2 separate regions of the Homo sapiens genome follow, and region 2 is reported to be linked to region 1. The links are microRNA targets in miRTarBase. Many come from high-throughput screens and were not tested one by one. Region 1 holds a microRNA gene; the other region holds the end of a gene's coding sequence.

Region 1 (4,533 bases):
TTCCAATACCTTCCATGGATTCCCCACCCTGATCCTTTCTAGTTTGAAAGAATAACTTTGACTAAATCTGTGAGGAGATAAAACAGGCTGGTGATAAAAATTAATTCTGCTGAATGAGCAAATGCATTTGGATTGCAGAGATGCAAATAAGATAATACTTTTCTTTTCCTTTGACATACCAAGAGGATTACTTTAGAATGTTAAATTTGATTTTATTAGAATATATTAGCAGTGTTTTAATTAATACCAATCAAACATTTTCTTTCCCTGAGGCTTGATGTGTTCCTCGCTTTCTAAATCATCTGTCTTTTTTTCATCAAAAAGCCCCTCTACCAAATTACCAAAGCCTTTGTTACATTCTTTATAATTTTACTGTATTCAATGGAAAATTATGAGCTCTTTACCTAAAGGTGTCTTGCCTATAGTAATATATTCCCAGGTTCTAGATTTAAAATGAATACTGTTCATTAGTACACATATTTTTTAAAGGTAGAATTAGAGACTTGAAAAGAAATATCTTCTGTATTTTTCTTTTGGGGAAAAATGTTGCAAAAGGAATTTTGGCTGGTTCATATTATTTGGCTTTTATTCTCACTAGAGCTTCCTAGAGCTGTTAAATTCCAACTGCCTTGGTTTTGAGCTGGCATTTCTTTGGAAACAGAGGCAAAAAAGGAATTTTTAAAAAGGAGGTGGGGAGAGAAACTAGTTAAAAATACGGTGAGCCAGTGTGCCCTGTGAACTGAATTGTAACTGTGTGTTCCAAGGAGGTGCTGCATTGCATTTCACTCATTATCCTCTCCTTTTCTCTCAAGCTTCCTGTCCTTCTGTGTCCGAAAGCTCCAGTTCACTTCTTTCTCTTTTCTTCCCGCAACGCACCCCCGCCCCAGTTCCCCGCCTTATTTTTTTTTTTTTAATCTGCCAAGCTGGATTTGCACTTTTAAAGATCAGTATCAATAATGCCCTGCTTGTTTCGGTTGCACTCTCCCTTTAAAAGACAGCCCCCTCTAATTGATGCGTCTGGGCTAGTCTAGACTGGTAGTGATTGAACCAACCACCAATTATGTTATTCATTTCACTGAACTTCACTGATGGGCTCGGTGAGGAAGAAGGGGTGTTGAGAAACCTGCCCTTGACTGAAGCAGTTGCCTGCTGAAATATAAAATCTTGTGTCGTTATGCACTTTTAAATGCCTGGGTGATCAGTTGTATGATAGCAACCTCGGAACATGAGCAATCCACTTGAAAACATGTAAAAACCTGAGAGTGCCTTGAAATACAAATTAAAACACTTGTATTAAATTACTACCCTGTTATCACTGAAAATCACGGAAGAATTTTACCTGGCATGTTTTTATTGATCCATGTATACATTTTCATAGAGTAAACTGCAGATATATTTTAACTTCAAAAAGCACCAACTGTTTTACAAATGTTGGATATGAATAATGTGGTAATATAGATTCGTAAGTTAAATAGATGCCTTGCTATAATTTCCAAATACCTATGCATACACATCAGCTAAGGTAGGGGAAGTCATTAAACCATTGAATATAAACTAACGATGACTCGACAATCAAATAACTATTTTTTTTGAAGCACATTCGGACTATCAAAGACTGGAAAGTAATATTCTAATATTACTACACAAGAGGTTTCAACAAAAGACGTGGTGCAATCGTTGCATAGTTCATATTCTCAGTTCAATTTTCTGATACAAAATGGTTTCTTGATTGCAATTTGGCATTAATGACTAAAATTGCAATAAACACTTAAAATAAAAAACAATAACAGGCAAAGAACAGTTTCCCTAACCTTCAATTACATGTATAAAACAAGGCTACAACCAATATAAAGTCTTTAGAAGAAGAAAGCATTTGGATTGGGGTTGATTTAGGTGTTTTTCAAACATAGAAGAGAAATGTTGGCCCAATAATACGAAAATTGTTTAAATGATATTTTATACTAGAATTTTTCACAACAAAGGAAAGGTAAGTTACTGTTTCTCTTCCCCAACTACGAGACAGCCCTAAATCACTGAAATGATTCAGTTATAAAAAGTTACAGCTCAAGAAAACTACAAACTAGGTAATGCTAGCCATTACCTTAAGAAAGGATAATTTTAAATGTACAGTTTGGGTGTTATAAAACCTTTTTTGGATTGAATTTAAGTACTGATAAAATTTTCCTTAGTTTTAAAATGAAAACCAGTATTTGTTACTCCCAAAGAATACGATAATTGTGTTTGCTGTTGCTGTTGCTTTCATTTTACATATTTAGAAGATTTATTTCCAATCTTTATCACCTTTATATCCATAAAGTATAACATTTTGTAAAAGATACCAAGCAAGGAGGTGGTATCCCTCCTTTTATTTTTAAAAAATCTTGCAAAGTCATACAAACTTAATTTTTATTAATACCATAACTTCCATCCTTTGTGTGGAATTGCAAGAATAGAATTTTAACCTATTAATATTTTACTCCAAACTATTAGTTTGCCTTTATCTGCGTCTGTATGTTCACTGTCTAGCCATCCATGATACACATGTGTGGACACTGAATATATAATATATTCACATGCCCATTTTAATTGGGCACAATTTTAAGATTAACTGTGGAGTTTGAAAGTTGGAGACATGGGGCATGCTGGGACTTCAGCTGAGATGTTCTGAGGTCAAGCACCAGGTACTGAGCTGTTCTTGTTACGCTCGTATACTACTGCGTGTTGCTCTCAAGGAATAGACCAGGCAGATGAGTTCCACAAGCCTCAGGCATCAATAACATGCATACATACACATAGCAGCCAACACGCTATTAAAGCAAAATATATACCTACTTTAACAGAAATCCAGGAGCTGCCACTCTCTGGTCACCTGATCCCATCTAACAATGAAAACCTCAGAGGTATACTCAATCACCTCAGACAAACTTTCTTTTCTTTTGTTTTTGCTTTAAAGAATAAAATTCCACCAAATTTCCAGGATGCAAAAGCACGACTCGCAGCTCCCAAGAGCCTAACCCGTGGATTTAAACGGTAAACATCACAAGTTAGGGTCTCAGGGACTGAGAGGAGCGCAACAATGTTTTCTTTCTTGAGACAAAGCAAAGCAAAACAAGAATGACAGGCAATTTCTGTTCGAGGTTCATAACTAAGATGCAACAAACAGGTGGTATGGTATTTCTTCTCTAAGCTCCTTTCCTTCACAAAATTGAGATTCCGTTTAAGCCTAATACATATATACACACATACGCAGTATCTGGGGGCGCATATACAATCACGCACATACACATACGATCACGAGTACATCAGAGAAAACTCTTTCAAGATTTGGGCAAAATAGTTCACTAAAACGGAAAATAATATGCACAGACTCAGAAATGCCCAAGTTTTTAAAACCATAGTCTACAATAAGGATTTAGTGTCTTTTCAAAGCTTTAATTTACGACTAGCACAAATGACTGAAGAGAAAATAGGAGGCATCTCTTTCCCCCAGGGCAAGTATGCCGCATGCAAAAATCATAGAAATCGGGTTTTCAAAGGAGAAGACCAAGAAGTAGGATTCGGAGGCTATAGAAGTGTAAAGACGAATAGCGTTCTGAACTCACCCATTCGAAGCGGAGCGGGGCCCGCACAGCCTCCTGTGGCACCATCCCGAGCAAGGGGGGAAAATGAGAGCTCTCAGTGCGCTAGGCTGGGCGAGGTGTTTCAATAGAGGACGGAGAACGGGGGCGGGGAGGGGAGGCGGGGGCAGGAAGCGATACACCAAATCTCGAGACTGTAACTCTGTAGCTTATGCTTTGACGAGAGAAAAAAGGGCAGTTGGGTGGGAGTGGAGGGAGGGGCTGGAACTGATCAAATTTGGAAAATATTCACTTAAAAATTAAAAAAAGGCGGGGGGGGGGGGGGAGTATGAAACCTCCCCAGAGCTGCTTTTTGAAAAATTTCTTCCTTCTTTCTTTAGCGTGCACTTTGCCAGTCCTGCAAACGGAGGCTTCGTCTGCATCAGCTGCTTGGCTGAAGTCAAGGCCAAATCACCAAGAGCGAGCACCAGGCTGTCATTTGGTAGACACGAAGTGGGAAGGGCTGGGTGCGGGCTGGGGAGAGACATTCCCCCCGCACCTCCCGCTGCGGATTCTTTGAAGCCTTTGGCCAATATTTCAGAGGAATCCGAAGCATAATTCCCCTCCATCTTCGCAGACAGCCCCTGGTTCTGTACCTGATAGATTGTCGCTTTCCTCATCAGACTGGAAGTGGGGCTTTCCTGTGCCGCCACCAAAAATGAAAGGAAAAGGAGGGGAGGCAGATGGGAAGATGACCCTTTTACAAATGTTTCTTCTCCTTTTTCTTTCTGTTTTTCATTTCATTTCTTTCTTCTTCTTGTTCTTCTTTTATTCCAGGCCTGAGCAAGGTAGATGGCTGGCTAGTCAAAGAGAATGACAAAGCAGCCACAGCCAGGAGGACACTGGAGAGGCCTCAACGCACTTAGTAAAAATGCTAAATATTTTTTTAGATATTTCCATATGCAACTAAAAACAG
Region 2 (3,000 bases), not on the chromosome of region 1:
CCGCCATGGAGGTGGAGGTGCTGGGCATGGCCATCCAGAAGCATCTGGAGCGACAGATCGAGGAGCACGGCCGCCAAGGGGCGCCCGCGCCGCCGCCCGCCGCCCGTGCCGGCCCCGGCCGTTCGGGCTCGGTGCGCACCGCGCCCCCAGATGGCGCCGCCAAGCGTCCGCCCGGCCTGTTCCGCGCGCTGCTGCAGAGTGTGCGCCGGCCGCGGTGCTGCTCGCGGGCGGGACCCACGGCCGAGTGATCTGCCCCCATTTTGTACGCCCGAGTTTCCGACCTTCTCAGGCTCCCTTCTTGATCACAGGCCCCTAGAAGGGGTCCCCTCTGCGTGCCACAGGCCTCCGAGGGGTTGTGCAGCCTCTAGGGCTGTTGCGTCCCCGTCTTTCCAGCCCCTCCCATCACAAATACAGAAGAACCCCTTCTACCAAGCTCCCTCGTGGCCACGAGGCCACGAACCCGGCCAGCCCTGACGCCCCACTGTCCCCTCACAGCCCTCAGCTCTACTCCCGGTCACACTGGGCGACCACGGGGGCCTGCTCAGCACCCTCACCTCCCACCCCCTGAGAGCTGGGGCAGGCTCCTGAGATGTCTAGACTGGTGCGTTGTGGTCTCCGGTGGGGCCAGATCCCCAGAACAGGGAGAGACTGCATACAAGTCTGAGTGGCAGAAGCTTCAAGTGGGTGAGGATCGGTGTGTGAGACCCGCGAGTGGGCACGTCTCTGAATGTGAGGTCTCGGGCAGCACGTGAGGTAGAACGAGTGTGAGCGTCTCCACGCAGTGGCTGGCCCCGTGGCCGGGGCGTCTCTTGCATGCTGTTGGTGGTCCTTCCCCAGTTCCTATCTCCCACCCGCCTGGTTCCAGCCCCATCCCCTCTCCCACTGAGTCACAGGTTTGAGATTCCCAGAGAGGCCAAAGACAGCTACAGGAAGTACCCTGGGGGCTCAGCTGAGAGAGAGTCACAGAAAGGCCAGAGGGTCTCAGGAAGGTCTGGAGGTCACAGCTGGGCTCACAGAAGCTCTTGGGCCCTGGCATCCTGGGTGACCGGTGTTCTTGGGTATTGGGGACAGGACAGAGAGCTCATTCTATAACCACAGTTGTCTTTTAAAGGCCACCCTCTCCAGCCCCTTGTCCCCCCTGTGCTGTGAGCCCAAGTCCCTTGTGACCACTCAGTGTCCCGTCCCCACCCCTCCAGCCGCAGTTTTTGGCTACAAACTGTCACAGTATACATTGGTAATAAAATATTTCCCCAACCCCTGTCTGCCGTGATTGGCCAAAAGCAGGAGGCAGGGCAGCGTCATATATTTTCATCTCCAGGGAGACAGGTGCAGTTAGGGTGTGGTAGGGCCTCTTCAAGGGGTCCAGAAGAGTGGGGGCCCCTGTCACAGGTCCGTGGTGTCCAGGCCAGCGTTGGTGTAGGATGGCCCCTCCAGCTGTCCACTTGCGCCTGCCTGCCGTCCTAACAGGACCACGCTCAGGGGCTCTGGATCTGGCTCTGGTGGTGTGTGTGGTGGCCTGTGCTCCTGCAGGGAGAGGGAGAGGAGGTGTGAAGGGCAAGGCAAGGTGGGGCGAGTGCCCCAGGCCCTAGGGGAGTGGATGGGCTTCAAGCTCACGACCAGTGGTTCCTTGGCAGGGGTCCCACCCTGCCCCTCCTGGGGCCTCTGGTCCAGGCTGTGTCCCAGAGGTGGCCCTGGCTAATGGTGATGCAGATTAGGGGAGGGGGAGGGTGTGGCCTGGGGGATTCACTCTTGCCTTTGCCCTGCCCACCAACACTGCGGCACTCTGCCGTTCAGCCCAGTTCCAAATAATGCCAGGCCCTGTGTCCTGTGCCGAGGAGCCAGCCCAGCGCAGTTCCTGCCCCCTGTACCCCACGGCAGGCACCGTGTGGGTTGAGGTCCATCCATTACCTCAACTACCCACTGAAACCCTCTGAGGGAGGGAACATGTCCTCTCTTCACAGATGTGGAAACTGAGGCTTAGAGAGGTCTACTGGTGAAGAGGGGCAGACCACTGGTCTTGCTGGTTCAAAAGCGTGTCCATGATGTGACACTGCCCTGGTTGAATTTGACGTCTCTTTTTGCTGCCCTCAGAGGGACGCTGCCCACAGGCTGGTCCCACCTGCAGTTTATCATGGCACACACTCACTCATCTCTCCCGCCCTTCCTCTTCCACCTCGCCATGCGACATGCTGTGTGCGTGCACACACACACACACCCTCCTGTGGAACAGCCAGGCCCCCAAGCTCAGCTGCTCTGCTACAGAGACACCCACAGGGCCAGAGCCCCGGCCACCACCGCCCTCCCCAGGGCACTCCAAGGGCTTTTTCCAGACTGGGGCTGTTCTGGTCCCTAGTAAACAGTGGAACATCCGAGGGGCCCCAGAGGGGCTAAGCATTCTGCCTGTGTTCCTCAGAGCCCTCAAGACAGACCCCAAGTGGAGAGCTGCAGGCTCAGTGCCACCCACGATAACATGACCTGGTGCCAGAGACCAAAGACCTGGGTTCTGGTCTGCCCCTGCCCTGCAAGCTGTCCCACTTTGAGCAAGTCAGCACCCCTCTCTGGATGTGAATTTCCTTGCTGGTTACTTGGGGAGGTTAGAGTGATAATCTCTCCAGCCACTCACACCTACCACACAGACGTGTGGAGCTTAGACAAGTCAGGGCACCAAGAGATTCCTGGGAAAAGGATCCACCTGCGCCACCCCAGCCATGGGAGAGCAGGGGGCAGACAGCTCCCAAAAAGGCCCCATGCCTCGTGGACCTGCCCAGAGACCCGCAAGACTCACTGCTGCAGGAGACAGGGTGGAGCCTTGGGCAGCTTCTCAGAAATATAGCAACCCCCTGCCCTCCCAGGACATAATCTGAGCAATTTTCTGGCTTTGAAGACTTTCCGTGACTTGTCCCCACACCCTCTCCAGACCCTTCTCCTACTTCCCTGCCCCTTCCCAGTCCACAGATCCAGCCACACCTCAGGGGGTCCTTAACTCCACTCCCTTGGGTT

Evidence for each region. Region 1 holds the annotated microRNA hsa-miR-125b-5p (UCCCUGAGACCCUAACUUGUGA, at 3,038-3,059, opposite strand). A microRNA usually pairs through its seed, bases 2 to 8, with sites in the 3' UTR of a target mRNA and lowers its output. Matches are read on the target gene's strand: a 7mer-m8 pairs with bases 2 to 8, a 7mer-A1 pairs with bases 2 to 7 and ends in A, and an 8mer does both.
Region 2: miRTarBase lists GPRIN1 as a target of hsa-miR-125b-5p. The part of its 3' UTR that is shown has no 7-base or 8-base seed match.

The regions. Positions count from the first base shown.
Region 1 is chr11:122,096,772-122,101,304 of GRCh38, forward strand. MIR125B1 (microRNA 125b-1) reads right to left here and starts at 3,073; the gene lies at 2,986-3,073. All of the region lies in intron 4 of MIR100HG (mir-100-let-7a-2-mir-125b-1 cluster host gene), which reads right to left.
Region 2 is chr5:176,594,056-176,597,055 of GRCh38, reverse strand. It overlaps GPRIN1 (G protein regulated inducer of neurite outgrowth 1), which reads left to right. Exons shown (of 2, transcript NM_052899.3): 2 at 1-1,254. The coding sequence ends at 248. CDHR2 (cadherin related family member 2) reads right to left here. Exons shown (of 32, transcript NM_017675.6): 32 at 1,232-1,524. The coding sequence ends at 1,384. Among named protein-coding and RNA genes, the nearest start is that of GPRIN1, 15 kb to the left of the region's middle. RefSeq lists a silencer at 22-181.